2 linked regions of the Homo sapiens genome follow. The protein of the gene in region 2 purifies or fractionates together with the protein of the main gene of each other region. This does not show direct contact. Each region holds a gene or a part of one and is shown on either strand. Other genes may lie near its edges. The genes, in order: ATP6AP2 and ATP6AP1.

Region 1 (7,716 bases), about 110 Mb from region 2:
GAGTAGGAACAATGAAGTAAGTGCAGTTATTCAATGAATACATGAATATCATTAATTTCCGTCTTTTTAAAAAATAGAGACAGGGTCTCACTCTGTTGTCCAGGCTGGTCTTGAACTCCTGGCCTCAAGCAATCCTGTCTTGGCCTCCCAAAGTGCTGGGATCACAGGCTTGAGCCACTGCATCTGGCCTCCCATTCCTTATACTACTTGAAATTTTGGAAATTTTGCTATTTTAGAAAATGAAAGATTGTGCACATTTACTGCTGGGGTAGATTCTTCTTTAGTGTAATTTTCTTATGACTCTCATGAATAAACTGATCCTTTTTGTGAGTTGAGCTGTGGTAAATAACATCACATTTTAGCACGAGGGTTGCCACCTATTAATTCAAACAAGCCAGAGGTCATAGATCTACTTGGTGACTGGTGGAGCTGTGTGGATCTGGTAACTTGGAAGCCATTGTTCACTGCCTCTGCTGATTTGTTGCCACATTTTTCTCATTCATTCTGGACATTGCAGTGGAGGGAGCCACCTCTACTTTTGACTCCTGTCCTTCAGTTTCTCCATCTGCTCATGCGCCCTCTTAACCATGTGGCATGCCACTTTCGTGGTGGCCTCCCCTTTTTATTTGCTGTGGATGACCAGGGCCATCATCCTTTATTCTCTGATGTGGAAACTATTCAAGGGAAGTGAGCAAACTGGGCCAATGGTAGGATGTCATTGCAGAGTGCCAGGATATCCTGATGCTTTGAAGGAAAACCACTGGAGAACTTGGATGCTTTATCATGGTTTTGCCAAAAATATAGCTATTGAGTGGCAGTCACTGTGCTAGGGAATGGCCATCACCTTTTTGTTAGGAAATAATGTTTTATATGCATTTTCAATTGAAGCAAACATACCAAATGGAAGATAATTATATAAATTCACTTATATGATCAACATTTGTAATATCCTGTGCCTTGCTTGGTAAATGGCAAATAAAGATCTCTGGTGCACATTTAAAAGAATGCTCTTTTTTTTTGGGCTCTCTGAAGGTTGACCTGCTCTTTCTTTCTGAACTGCAAGTGCTACATGATATTTCAAGCTTGGTAAGTAGGCTGCTCTAATTTTTTAATTCCATTTATTTTGGTTTCTAGAGAATCCTTGAATAATAGTAAAGGCAGTTGAAAAGTTTGATTAAGTATGCCCTAGATTTATGATCCCATGAAAATTGAAAAATTAGTGGCAATATTGGGAATTTTGAACACATCCATGTTATAGTCAAATTATTTTGCATTTCTGCTTTTTAGGGAGAGACAACATATCTTCCAAGAACACAAGCCTGGGCGTAAGAACACCCTGGCCATAGTCCTAACTTGGCTGTTGATTTCTTGTGAGACTTAATTCCTATCTATATCTTTGGGCCTAAAATAGAAATAATAGTTTGGACTAATAATGCTGTCAGTCAAGTCAAGAAGGGACGAAATCCGTCTGAAGGGTATTTTTTTGGTGAATGATTTTTTAAAAATCATCCTTGTTACTGAAATAGAAATTCTTATCTGTTTGCTACCTTCTGAAGTTGTTTTCCAAACTTTTTCAACAGGTGTTGGTTCGGGGAGTCTGGAAGTGTAGTGCATTCCTGGGATCAAACTGGTCCAGCCATCTGTTCTTTCATACGTTGGCCCATACCTGAGTTTTTAAAACTGAGGAATTTTGTTGAAAGCTTTTATTAAATATCCAAGGAGTCTTGTACTGCTCCTAAACATGAGATTCGTGTTGGATTTATCAGAAACGCTTATTCAAACCAGTTTCTTTTGCCACCATTTTAGACTATTTGCATGTTGTGGTACACTGGTATGGTTTAGTTTAGCCTAGTTTAGTTAGGCATAAAACTTTAACTGGCTGTGTTTGACGTCTTTCATCTTACTTTATCCGCTACCTTTTTTTGTTTGTTTGTTCTCCTAAGCTGTCTCGTCATAAGCATCTAGCCAAGGATCATTCTCCTGATTTATATTCACTGGAGCTGGCAGGTTTGGATGAAATTGGGAAGCGTTATGGGGAAGACTCTGAACAATTCAGAGATGCTTCTAAGATCCTTGTTGACGCTCTGCAAAAGGTAAATATCAATGCGACATGAGAGGTTGGAGTATGACCATTTCACTTTTAGCCTCTTAATAGAAAAATCTGCTGTTTCAAACACTGTTGATTGAACTCTTATTTGCCTTCTTTGGGGCTCCTCTAATTATACTGGCCAAGGATGGAGTAGGGTCAAAAATGTATATTGATATATTTCTTCCTAATGCTAGAAAGAACAGCATTAGGAAAAGTTATCTCACACAAAGCTTTACAAAATTATTGTGGTAAAATATATATAACATAAAATTACCACTTTAACCATTTTTAATTGTACAGTTCAGTGGTATTAAGTGCAAGTACGTTCACATGTTGTACAACCATCACCATCTTCTATTTCTAGAACTTTTTCTTCTTCCCCAACTGAAACTCTGTACTCCTTAAACACTATGAGATAACTGAAGTAGAACACCCAGCACAGTACCAGACAGTAGATGCATAATAAATGCTAGTTCCCCTCTGCCCTTGAAGTTCTTCACCTGCATCCTTTCAGTGAGGCTTCATATTTTAATCTTTATAGATGTTTGTGATTAACCAGAGACCACTTAGGAAGATTTCATTTCTCTTTCCAACTTCCCTTCCTCCAATTTATATGCTGACAAATTCAGTCTCTTCTTAAAGTAATTTTAGTCTAAACATTTGAATATATGTTAAAGCTTAACACTTTTCTGTATAGTTGAGCAAAATCAAAACCTTTAAGACTTGCTTATTGTAAGATGTAGTATATTTCATGAGCCAGGAGGTAAGTGTACATTGTTCTTGTAGCTGCACAAAAGCTTTAAAAATAATTTTAATAAGTATGTATTTGACTCACTGCATAAAATGATAAGTAGGAGGTAATGCATATGTTAATTAGCCAATGTGGACTTAAGCCATTCCACAATGTGTACATATTTCAAAACAATATGTTGATGTGATAAATATATATGATTTTAATTTGTTAATTAAAAATGAAAAAAGTACATAGTTGAGATTCCCAATAATGTTAATAACTAACTTTCAGTTTGCAGATGACATGTACAGTCTTTATGGTGGGAATGCAGTGGTAGAGTTAGTCACTGTCAAGTCATTTGACACCTCCCTCATTAGGAAGACAAGGACTATCCTTGAGGCAAAACAAGCGGTGAGTATATTTTGAGATCCTGCTTTAAAACTGTAAAATTAACTTCTTATAAAAAAAAAAAAACCAAGTCCTATATCACCTAAGGGTGACATGAATGAGCAGTCAGTAAATCTGAAAAACAATTTCAGTTAAAACGTAAGCTTCTTGTTCACATACATATGTGTGCTTTGCCAGTGATGATCAGTTCTTTAGGGTTATAATCAGATAATGCAAGAATTTGAATTAGGGATAAAAGTAAATCTGTCCAAGATTATAATTCAAATATCAGTACACACAAGGAGATATCAGAAGTTAATGTGGCGCCAGGTGCAGTGGCGTGCATCTGTAATTGCAGCTTCTCAGGAGGCCAAGGCAGGAGGATTGCTTTAGCTCAGGAGGAGTTTGAGGCCAGTCTGAGGAAACATAGCAAGACCCTGTTTTGAAAACAAAAAGAAGTGAATGTGTGCGGGAGTGGTGTGGTGCCCACATCCTATGGGCTCTGCTTTTCTAGCAGGCACATTGTCTTTGTGGCGTAGTCCCTCACTTACTGAGATCCTCTGTGTGCACCTCTTTATGATTTTGATTTACTTAACAGTTTTTTTGGGTATGGATCTTGCTTTGATTTTAAGCATTTAGAGGGTCAGGGTTAAGCATTACCATGGTTGCTGGCCATGGTAAAATACATATCTGTTTATGTGTATGTACGTGCACATTTACATACATACATATATACTTACAGCTGCAGCAGAACCTAGGGAGGGTGATGGGAAAGAGTAGTGTAGATGCTCCCTAACATCCTACGTCTGAGAACATTGCTTAGGGCTGGCTGTATCACTTGCAGCAGATAGATATCCACTCAATTACATACACCTCCGCTTCAGACCCATTTGCAGCCCTCACCCTGCTCAGTTTTACTGAAGTCAGTGTGGGACTTGGAGTCGGAAGGTCGAAGCCAGTGCCTGTTTGAGATAGTCTAGCGATTACTGGTTTGAGATTGTTTCTTTCTAAATTAAATTGGGGATGGAAGGACCTTTGTTTCAGACAGCATGTCAGTCTAGACAACCACCCAAGATTTCCCACCATAAAACGTCTAGAAATGCTAGATAAAAATAAAGATCTTTTAAAAAGTACATAGTTTGGGCTGGGTGTGGTGGCTCACGCCTGTAATCCCAGCACTTTGGGAGGTTGAGGCGGGCGGAACACCTGAGGCCAGGAGTTCTAGACCAGCCTGGGCAACATGGTGAAACCCCGTCTCTACTAAAAATACAAAAATTAGCCTGGTGTGGTAGCGGGCACCTGTAATCCCAGCTACTTGGAAGGCTGAGGCAGGAGAATTGCTTGTACCCGGGAGGCAGAGGTTGCAGTGAGCCAAGATTGCACCACTGCACTCTAGCCTGGGAGACACAGCAAGACTCCGTCTCAAATAAAAAAAAAATTACAAAAATAAAAATACATAGTTCAGCTCGCAAGAAAGGGAAATTCTCTTACAGAGTAAATAAAGAAGAGGAGGCCGGGTGCGGTGGCTCACACCTGTAATCCCAGCACTTTGGGAGGCCGAGGTGGGTGGATCACAAGGTTAGGAGTTCGAGACCAGCCTGGCCAACATGGTGAAACTCCGTCTCTACTAAAAACACAAAAAATCAGCCGGGCGTGGTGGCGCACGCCTGTAGTCCCAGCTACTTAGGAGTCTGAGGCAGACAAATCGCTTGAACCCGGGAGGCGGAGGTTGCAGTGAGCTGAGATTGTGCCACTGTACTCCAGCCTGGGTGACACAGTGAGACTCCATCTCAAAAAAAAAAAAAAAAACCGAATGTGGTAAGCAGGCCGCCCTAAGGATATTTGCCAGCTGGGTCACCAAGAGTCCTTTGGTGCCTTGTGTGTGGGGGATGGGAATGGACAACTCCAGATAAAGCTGGGGACCCCGAGAGAGCTGTGCCCTCAGTGAGAGGGTAGACTGGAAATTTTTGCCCACCAGCACAGGGAAACAGAAAGGCACCTGGGCTCTGGGTGGTCAGCACATGTGTTGAGAGTGGGGATGCCTCCCAGAGAATTCTTTTTTTTTTTTTTTTTTTTTTTTTTTTGGATTTTTTGGAGATAGGATCTTACTCTGTCACCCAGACTGGAGTGCAGTGGCACAATCTCAACTCACTGCAGCCTCCACCTCCCAGATTCAAGTGATTCTCCTGCCTCAGCCTCCTGAGTAGCTGGAATCACAGGCATGCACCACCACACCCGGCTAATTTTTGTACTTTTAGTAGAGATGGGGTTTTACCATGTTGGCCAGGCTGGTCTTGAACTCCTGGCCTCAAGTGATTTGCTCACCTCAGCCTCCCAAAGTGCTGGGATTACAGGTGTAAGCTACCATGCCCGGCCTATGAGATTTCTTTTTAGGGTGATAGAAATGTTCTAGAATTAGATTGTGGTGATAACTATGAAACCACTAAAATTCCTTGACTTGTACACTTAAAATGGGTAGGAAAAAGAACATGTTTATCAAAAAAAAAAAAAGGAAAGAAACAAAGAGGTCTTCATGGGCGTGAAATCCTTTAACGTTTGCCTCAGCTCTGAGCTCCCCGCAGGTAAATATGCATGCCTGTGTACCCATTCTCTCCTACATTTGAAATCACTCTCTTCCATTAGTTTAAGGAGACAGGAGTTTAAGGAACATTTACTGAGTACTCACAACATTCCAGGTGCTGGGGCTGTAGGGACAAATAGATCTCGGTTACATTTTCGTTCTCATCCTCACTGCCAGGCACCCTGCCCCCATTTCTCCCACCTCATTTGACTGCCGCCTCCTAACTTGTCTGAACTCATCTGTCTCTCTGCTTCCCAGCTGGCTCCTCCCAAATCCATCCTACACATTGTCATCAAAGTTATCTTTTTTCTTTTCTTTTTTTGAGACAGGGTCTCGCCCTGTCCCAGGCCGGAGTGCAGTGGCGCAATCATAGCTCACTGTAGCCTCAAACTCCTGGGCTCAGGTGATCCACCTGTCTGAGCCTCCTGAGTAGCCAGTTCTATAGGCTTGAGCCACCACACTCAGCTAATTTTTAATTTTAATGTTATCTTTTTAAGACAAACCTGATCATGTCACTCACTTTCTGCCTAAAGCTTGTCAATGGCTCCTTATTGCCCAGAGGCTCATGTCAGATTTTCTGTAGCTTCCCTGCTTCTAGCTTCATCTCCTGCTGTGTTCCTACTTTTAAAATTCTCTAGCCAGAATGAATGATATTTCCCAAACAGTGCCTTTGTCAGAATGAATTCAGTTTCCCAAACAATGTTTTTACACAGCTCTGTATTTTAAAAAAAAGTGTTAAGTGGATCATACATACATAAGTATATAACATATTTAATACTAGTTATTTAAATAATAAAAATAATAACACTGTATAGCTCCGTTTTCATATGGCTATAAAGAGCTACCTGACACTGGGTAATTTATAAAGGAAACAGGTTTGATTGATTCACAGTTCCACATGGCTGGGGAGGCCTTAGGAAACTTACAATCATGGAGGAAGGGGAAGGGGAGGCAGGCACCTTCTTCACAAGGTGGCAAAAGAGAGAGAAAGTGGCACACTTTTAAACCATCAGAGCTCATGAGAACTCAGTATCATGAGAACAGTATGGGGGAAACTGCCCCCATGATCCAATCACCTCCCACCAGGTCCCTCTCTCGACACGTGGGGATTACAAATCGAGATGAGATTTGGGTGGGGACACAGAGCCAAACCATATCAATAGCTTAAGAGAATGCTTGCTTCTTTGAAGCTCCCTATTTTCTCCCTCTACCCTCCCTCATCCAGAGGTAACTGCTGTCCTGGATATCATGTTAATCCCTTGCTTTTCTTTACAGATTGACTGCATATGTATTTGTTCTTAAACAGTGTTGTTTGGTTTTGCCTGTATTTGAATTTTATATAAATTGAATCATACTACATGTATTTTTCTGTGTTCTTTGTTCAGTATTCTTTTTAAGATTCACTCAGGCTGACAAATGTAGCTGTAGTTTAGTCATTTTACTGTTACATATTCTGCTTGTAGGGATATACCACAATTCCATTCTGTTGATGATTTTTTTTTTTTTTTTTTTGAGACGGAGTTTTGCTCTTGTTGCTCAGGCTGGAGTGCAATGGCACAGTCTTGGCTCACTGCAACCTCCACCTGCTGGGTTCAAGCAGTTCTCCTGCCTCAGCCTCCCGAGTAGCTGGGATTACAGGCACCTGCCACGCCTGGCTAATTTCGTATTTTTAGTAGAGACGGGGTTTCACCATGTTGGCCAGGCTGCTCTGGAACTCCTGACCTCAGGTGATCTGCCCGCCTTGGCCTCCCGAAGTGCTGAGATTACAGGCATGAGCCACTGTGCCCAGCCTTGCTGCTGATATTCTTATACATGTCTCTTGGTACACATATAGAAATTTTCCCTAGCGTATGGACTTACTGGATCACAGGATATGCACACCTTCAACTTTATTAGGTATTGTCCAGTTTTCCCAAGCATTTGGAC
Region 2 (7,854 bases):
TTGGTTTCCAGGGCCTGGGAGGATGGGGGAATGAGAAATTGTATAATGGGGACAGAGCTTTAGTTTGGGAAGATGAAAAGAGTTCTGAAGATGGATGGTGGTGATGACTGTACAACAGTGTGAACGTACTTAATGCCACTGAACTGTACAGTTAAAAGTGGTTAAGGCCGGGCGTGGTGGCTCACACCTGTAATCCCAGCACTTTGGGAGGCCGAGGTGAGCGGATCACCTGAGGCCAGGAGTTTGAGACCAGCCTGGACAACATGGTGAAACCCCCATCTCTACAAAAAAAAAAAAAAAAATTAGCTGGGCATGTTGGTGGGTGCCTGTAATCCCAGCTACTCAGGAGGCTGAGGCGGGAGAATCACTGAAACCCGGGAAGCAGAGGCTTCAGTGAGCCAAGATTGTGCCATTGCACTCCAGCCTGGACAACAAGAGCGAAATTCCGTCTCAAAAAAAAAAAAAAAAAAGGCATTTCACAGAAGAGGAAACACAAAAGGCAGAGTGTGCATGGTATGGGTTTCCTGTGGCTGCAGTAACAAAGTGCCAGAGACTGGGAAGTTTAAAGCAACAGAAATTTATTCTCTCCCAGTTCTGAAGGCCAGAAGTCCGAAATCAAGGTGGCACCAGGGTGGGTTCCTTCTGGGGCTGTGAGGGAAAGCCAGCTCCAGGCCTGTCTTCTGGCTTCTTCCGGTGGTTCCCAGCAATGCTCCGTGTTCCTTGGCTTGCAGAGGTGTCATTCCAATCTCTGCCTTCAGCTGCGTGCAGTGCTCTCCTCCCTGTGTCTGTCTCTTTTTCTCCTCCTTTAAAAACACCATGCATTGATTGAACTAGGGGTCACCCTTATGCAGTATAACCTCACCTTAACTTGATTCTGTCTGCAATGACTTTTATGGGGACACTACTCAACCCAGTGCATATACTCTATGACCTAGCAATTCCCCACCTAGTTATATACCTATTGAAATGAACATCTATGTTTAACAAAAGACACATACATCGGCTGGGCGCAGTGGCTCACGCCCATAATCCAAGCACTCAGGCCGAGGCGGGCAGATCTTGAGGTCAGGAGATAGAGACCATCCTGGCTAACACAGTGAAACCCCGTCTCTACTAAAAATACAAAAAATTAGCTGGGCATGGGGGTGGGCACCTGTAGTCCCAGCTACTCAGGGGGCTGAGGCAGGAGACTGGCGTGAACCCGGAAGGCGGAGCTTGCAGTGAGCTGAGATCACGCCACTGCACTCCAGCCTAGGTGACAGAGCGAGACTCCGTCTCAAAAAAAAAAAAAAAAAGAAGAAAAAGAAAGACGTATACATAATTGTTCACAGCAGCATTAGCCATAACAGCCCAAATGGGAAACCAACCAAATGTCAACAGTTGAAGGACACAATCAATGGTGACGTATTCATCCAGGGGAATACTATGCAGCAACATTGTTACATGCAGCCACTTGAATTAATCTGCCAATGTTGAGCAAAGAATCTAGACACAAAATAATACTTCCCTTCAGAGTGGAGGAGAAGGCTGAGTGCGGTGACTCACACCTGTAATCTCAGCACTTTGGGAGGCCAAGGTGGGTGGGTCACCTGAGGTTAGGAGTTCAAGACCAGCCTGACCAACATGGTGAAATCCCGTCTCTACTAAATACAAAAAATTAGCCGGGCGTGGTGGCACATGCCTGTAATCCCAGCTACTCGGGAGGCTGAGGCAGGAGAATTGCTTGAATCCGAAGGTTGCAGTGACCCGAGATGGCGCTATTGCACTCCAGCCTGGGCAACAAGAGCCAAACTCTGTCTCCAAAAAAAAAAAAAAAAAAAAGAGTGGAGGAGGGAAAAATATTATACTGAATAATTTCCTTTATTTAAAGCCTCAAAACAGCCAAAACAACACATCCCATCATTTTTAGGAATGCATGCTTAACTGGTCAAACTATAAAGACCAAAGTGATTAGCAAAAGAATCAAGTTCATGGTCACATTGGGAAGTGATAGTAAGGGTATGAGAGGGGCTTTCAGGGCAATGATATTCAAATTCTTGACCTGGGTGATGCCATGGAACTGTCTGCTTTGATAAGCATTACACTGTACATCTTTATTTTGTGGGTTTTTTTTTTTTTTTTTTTTTTTGAGACAGAGTTTCGCTCTGTCACCCAGGCTGGATGGAGTACAATGGCATGATCTCTGGTCACTGCAACCTCTGCCTCCTGGGTTCAAGCGATTCTCCTGCCTCAGCCTCCCGAGTAGCTGGGATTACAGGCGCATGCCACCATGCCCGGCTAATTATCTTGTATTTTTAATAGAGACGGGGTTTCACCATGTTGGCCAGGCTGGTCTCGAACTCCTGCCCTCAGGTGATCCGCCCGCCTTGGCCTCCCAAAGTGCTGGGATTACAGGCGTGAGCCAATGCGCCTGGCCTACTTCTTTTCTTTTTTGGGTTACGTTTCACCATAGAAGTGCTTTTTTTTTTTTTTTTTGAGACAGAGTCTTGCTCTGTCGCCCAGGCTGGAGTGCAGTGGCACGATCTCGGCTCACTGCAAGCCCCATCTCCCGGGTTCACGCCATTCTCCTGCCTCAGCCTCCCGAGTAGCTGGGACTACAGGCGCCCGCCACCACGCCTGGCTAATTTTTCATATTTTTAGTAGAGATGGGGTTTCACCGTGTTAGCCAGGATGGTCTTGATCTCCTGACCTCGTGATCCGCCCGCCTCGGCCTCCCAAAGTGCTGGGATTACAGGCATGAGCCAAAGTGCCCGGCCCTTTTTTTTTTTCTTTTTTTTGAGATGGAGTTTCGCTCTTGTTGCTCAGGCTGGAGTGCAATGGCACGATCTCGGCTCACTGCAACCTCCGCCTCCCAGGTTCAAGCAATTGTCCTGTCTCAGCCTCCTGAGTAGCTGGGACTACAGGTGCCCGCCACCACGCCCAGCTAATTTTTGTATTTTTAGTAGAGACGGGGTTTTGCCATGTTTGCTAGGCTGGTCTCAAACTCTTGACCTCAGGTTATCTGCCCGCCTCAGCCTCCCAGTGTTGGGATTACAGGCGTGAGCCACCACGCCCAGCCAGGATTTCAATGAACAAAATGCTTTTACCCTAAAGATGAAGTCCCCAGACAGAAGGTGCTCATTGGTGCTGTCAACATTTGGTGATTGGTTCAGTTTAGATATCACCTCCTGGTGGGAGCAGCTTCATCGGTGCCCCTCTCCTTACATCCCTCCCAGTCCCATGTCTCAACCTTTGGAATATTCATGACCCTGTATCATGACCTGCTGTCCTGCATGTCCTCTAGACCAAACTGTCAACTTCCGGGGCAGAGTCCAGGTGCCTGGCCCATAGCAGGTGCTTCAGGAAGCCTCCAGGGCCATCACTCCAGGGACCCCTAGCAATGCAGGGAAGAATAAAAGCAGCCACAGGTGGGTTTCTTCCCTAAGCATGGAAGCAGCTCAGCAACAGAGTCCTGGCGGAGGCAAGATTGCCTTCCGCATTCCAGAGGAAGTATTTGCCTTGAAACTATGTAACAAAAGTAACAGAAACATAATAGACATGCTTTCCTTTTTAAGTTTGCTGGATTCTCCTGGGATACAGTGAAGCTCCAGTGAAAACCTCTCTCCTCAGCTAGTTAAGGCCTGGAAATGGCCACTTGGGGGTTTCCCTAAGCACCCGAAACTCAGTGAGCCCCCAAGTGACCTCGTCTCCCAGTCCCCAACTCAGAGAGACCCAAAAGCTACAATCTTCTTTGACTGTATTGTCAGACCCACTTCCTCTCTCCAGCTCAACTGCCACTATCCTAGTCCTAGTCTGAATCACATGTGACAATCATGACTACAATCTTTTTTTTTTTTTTTTTTTGAGATGGACTCTCACTCTGTCGCCCAGGATGGAGTGCAGTGGCGCGATCTCGGCCCACTGCAACCTCCGCCTCGCGGGTTCAAGTGATTCTCCTGCCTCAGCCTCCCGTGTAACTGGGACTACAGGTGTGCACCACCATGCCCAGCTAATTTTTGTATTTTCAGTAGAGATGGGGTTTCACCATGTTGTGCAGGATGGTCTCGATCTCTTGACCTCATGATTCGCCCGCCTCGGGCTCCCAAAGTGCTGGGATTACAGGCGTGAGCCACAGCGCCCGGCCCGTTAGGGTGTCTTTGATGCCACGCTTCGCTCTGGGTTTTCTCCTTCCTCTTTGATTGCTCCTTGTCCGATCTCTTTTCTGGACCCTTCTCCTCCTGCCCAATGTAAGTGCTGGGTGTTCCCCTAGATGCTATCCTGAGCCCGCTTCACTCCTCGTTCTAAGGGATTACAGTCTCCTCTCACCTGTATCAGGGAGGGTCCATCTGCAGGAAAAAGACACCACTTTTGCAATTTTAAGGAAAAGGATTAAAACAGGGATTGGCCGGGTGCGGCGATGCGCGCCTGTAGTCCCACTTTTCCGGAGGCTGAGGCGGGAGGATCGCTTGAGCCCGGGGACTCGAGACCAGCCTGGCCAACATAGCTAGACCCCGTCTCTAAAGAAAAAAAAAAGACAAAAGAAGAGAACAACAACAAAAAAACCAAAATAAAAATAAAAATAAAAACGGACGGGCGAACGCGTCGGGTGGGCGTAGGGTTCCGCGAAGCCTCCCTGTCCCTCTTGTCTCGTCCTAGTCGGTCTAGCTGGGCCCCATCCCCTTTCCCACTCGGAGCGTGAGCGCCTGGAGACACGTACAGCCAACCAGTGAGAAGGAGTGGCCGCGAGTGGCATGCACTTGGTCCAATTACCTGCGGCCCTGCCGGTCGGCCCGCGCTGGGGCCAATGGAGGTGCGAGGCGGGGCTCGGGCGGGGGCAACGGTCACCTGATCTGCGGCTGTCGAGGCCGCTGAGGCAGTGGAGGCTGAGGCTATGATGGCGGCCATGGCGACGGCTCGAGTGCGGATGGGGCCGCGGTGCGCCCAGGCGCTCTGGCGCATGCCGTGGCTGCCGGTGTTTTTGTCGTTGGCGGCGGCGGCGGCGGCGGCAGCGGCGGAGCAGCAGGTCCCGCTGGTGCTGTGGTCGAGTGACCGGTGAGCGGGCCGGGGTGGGATGCGCTGTGGCGGCTGAGGCGCCCTCGCCCGACTCCGGCGCTGTCCTAGGCGAGGGGTGGTGAGGCCCGGAGGTGGACTGTTCCTTGCTCGGGGGCTCGCAGCGAATCTGCCGGCGACAGAGCTCCAGTCCACATGCGCCCCCGTCTGACAGCACCTCTTCTGTGCCCTGCCAGGGACTTGTGGGCTCCTGCGGCCGACACTCATGAAGGCCACATCACCAGCGACTTGCAGCTCTCTACCTACTTAGATCCCGCCCTGGAGCTGGGTCCCAGGAATGTGCTGCTGTTCCTGCAGGACAAGGTGCGCCCGCCCCAGCCCACTCTCCCCCGGTCATCGGGAGGCAGCCAGGCCCCCTCCCCCCATGACACTGACGCCCATTCCCCAAGGGAAGCTTCAGTGACCTTGTCCCAACTGTAGGGAGGTGTGGGTCGTCTCATGGGAAGGCCTGTAGTAAACGCTTCAGTGGGCATGGCGACAGCCTCGGAAATGGCACCAACTTGATTGGAGGAAGCGACGGACCAGAGGCCAGGTACCTACTGAGTACCAAGCACTTTGGATATCTGACTTAGTCCAATATGGTGGGTGGGGATTATCGTCCCTGTTTGTTTATAGATGAGAAGACTGAGGCTGGAGGTTAAGTGACTTGTCCAAGCTCATACAGCTAATGGGTGGCAGAGTTGTAATTCTAGCTGTGATGATCATAATAATGATAATTGGAAAATGCTCACCTGTTTAGTGCTTTGTAGGCACTTGCTACACTGATGTCATTATCTTGGTTTCACTGCCAAGGAAAGTAAGGTTTGTCGAGATACAATGTTTCACTACAGTTGATAGATACCACTTTGGTTCCAGCCTGAGTCTGCCAATCCTCCCTCCCAATTGGAGCTCATAACCCGCATGCTGTTTTCCTTCCCATCCAGGATCTTTGCCCCAAAAGCAGGCGTGGAGACCATGAGATGACTCTAAGATAGCAAGTCTCTGCTAGGCCCTCCCTTGTTGGTGGCCTGTATGGCTCATTGCCCTTGTAGTCTCCCTTGGTTGCTGTGTGGGCAGATGGTGGTGGCCTGAAGTCTTTTCAGGAGGTGGTAAATAATATAGTCAAATAGGAACTGAGTCCTAGTTCTACCATGTAACCAGCCATTGGAGGCATGAAATAATCTTTGTGAATGACAGTTTCTACATCTGTAAAATGAAGACACCACCTATATCAGAGGGCTGTGAGTGGGAAATCTTTTTTTTTTTTTTTTTTGAGACGGAGTCTCGCTCTGTTGCCCAGGCTGGAATGCAGTGGTGCAATGTCAGCTCAGCTCACTGCACCCTCCGCCTCCCGGGTTCAAGCAGTTCTCTGCCTCAGCCTCCCGAGTAGCTAGGATTACAGGGCGCCCGCCACTACACCCAGCTAATTTTTGTATTTTTTTGTATTTTTAGTAGAGATGGGGTTTCACCATGTTGGCCAGGCTGGTCTTGAACTCCTGACCTCGTGATCCACCCACCTCAGCCTCCCAAACTGCTGGGATTACAGGCGTGAGCCACCGCGCCCGGCCTGTGAGGGGGAATTCTTATAATCCACATAAAACATCTAGCCAGGATCCCCCAGTCTTAGGGCATTCACCCATTCATTCATTTGCCCAATATGGAAAGCCTACTATGTGCCAGGTATTGTGAAGTGTTGGGGATATGGCAGTGAGCAGAAGAACCCAAGCCCCCACCCTCAGGAAGCTGACATTCTTGTGAGGGTGGCCAGTAAATACTAAGTCGGTATAGGATATGATGTCAGTGTTACGGCCTTTAGGGAAGGAAGCAGGCTAAGGGGACAGAGTGACTGGGATGCTATTTTAGATAAGGGTGGTCAGGCCAGGCCTCATTGAGGAGGTGATATATGAGCAGCGATCTTAATGGAGGGAGGGAGCCGTTTGGGGAAGGACATTCCTGGAACAGCAAATGCGAGGGTCCTGGGCGAGGTGTGCTCTTGGCCAGCTCAAGGAAGAGCTGGTGTGGCTGGAGCACAGTGAGTGAGAGAAAGGGGTAGGAGATGTAGGAGATGGTTTGCAGGTGGCTAGGCGATGAAGTAGGACCTTGTAGGCCATGAGGGGGAAGGTCAGTTGCAGTTCGAAATGTGTGAGAAAGCCTTGGGTAACGTGGAGCAGGGAGTGGTGTGATTTCTCAATTAAAGAAAGCCCACAGGACCCACCAGCAGTTCCTGGGCTTTCCGACTGAGAACCCCGGTGGCCAAACAGCAGCAAGGTCCTGCCCACAAGGGAGGGGAGGCTGGGCGAGTGTGTATACCAAACAGGTTAGGGAAGCTGATTAAAATCTCCTCAGGGCCTAACTGGGAAGGGCCAGAGGAAGCTGGGGATGGGAGTGGAGGGTAGGAGCAAAAGGACAAAGGACATCTGTAGGTTGTGGAGAAAAAGGGATGGGGTCGGGGCCACTGTGGTCCTAAGAGCTCAAAAGACTTCAATGCTCGATGCTTCCTCCAGCATGTTCTGAGATCCTCACCTCTCCCCTTCCGCCAAAAGCAGGTGGGGGGAGGGTCCCGTCCAGACTGGACATAGCCGACTCTCCTTTTCTCTGGCTGGGAGGCCTGCCACAAATGCTCTTGGCTGCCCCACCCCCTCCCCGCAGCTTCCCTGTTCCCTCCCCAGTTCCTCTTGTCTGTAGGGTGGGCAAGGCGGCTGACTCCTACTCCTGAGTTACCACAAGTCAGCTGCCTGCAGATCTCCCCACCCCATGACTGCCTTCCATGTCTTCTCACCCTGCCCTGAGAGTGCTGGAGGGAAGAGGTGAGTCTCCCACCCCACC

The links.
Region 1: the proteins of ATP6AP1 (region 2) and ATP6AP2 purify together in Homo sapiens (affinity purification with mass spectrometry; 7 studies listed by BioGRID and IntAct, with this or other methods). This does not show direct contact.

Annotation. Positions count from the first base shown.
Region 1 is NC_000023.11:40,597,649-40,605,364, forward strand, and holds part of ATP6AP2 (renin receptor precursor), read left to right. Parts: coding exon 1-16; intron 17-1,032; coding exon 1,033-1,086; intron 1,087-1,943; coding exon 1,944-2,093; intron 2,094-3,113; coding exon 3,114-3,233; intron 3,234-7,716. UniProt on the Homo sapiens protein: Multifunctional protein which functions as a renin, prorenin cellular receptor and is involved in the assembly of the lysosomal proton-transporting V-type ATPase (V-ATPase) and the acidification of the endo-lysosomal system.
Region 2 is NC_000023.11:154,423,823-154,431,676, forward strand, and holds the start of ATP6AP1 (V-type proton ATPase subunit S1 precursor), read left to right. Parts: upstream 1-4,854; 5' UTR 4,855-4,870; coding exon 4,871-5,031; intron 5,032-5,225; coding exon 5,226-5,352; intron 5,353-7,854. UniProt on the Homo sapiens protein: Accessory subunit of the proton-transporting vacuolar (V)-ATPase protein pump, which is required for luminal acidification of secretory vesicles.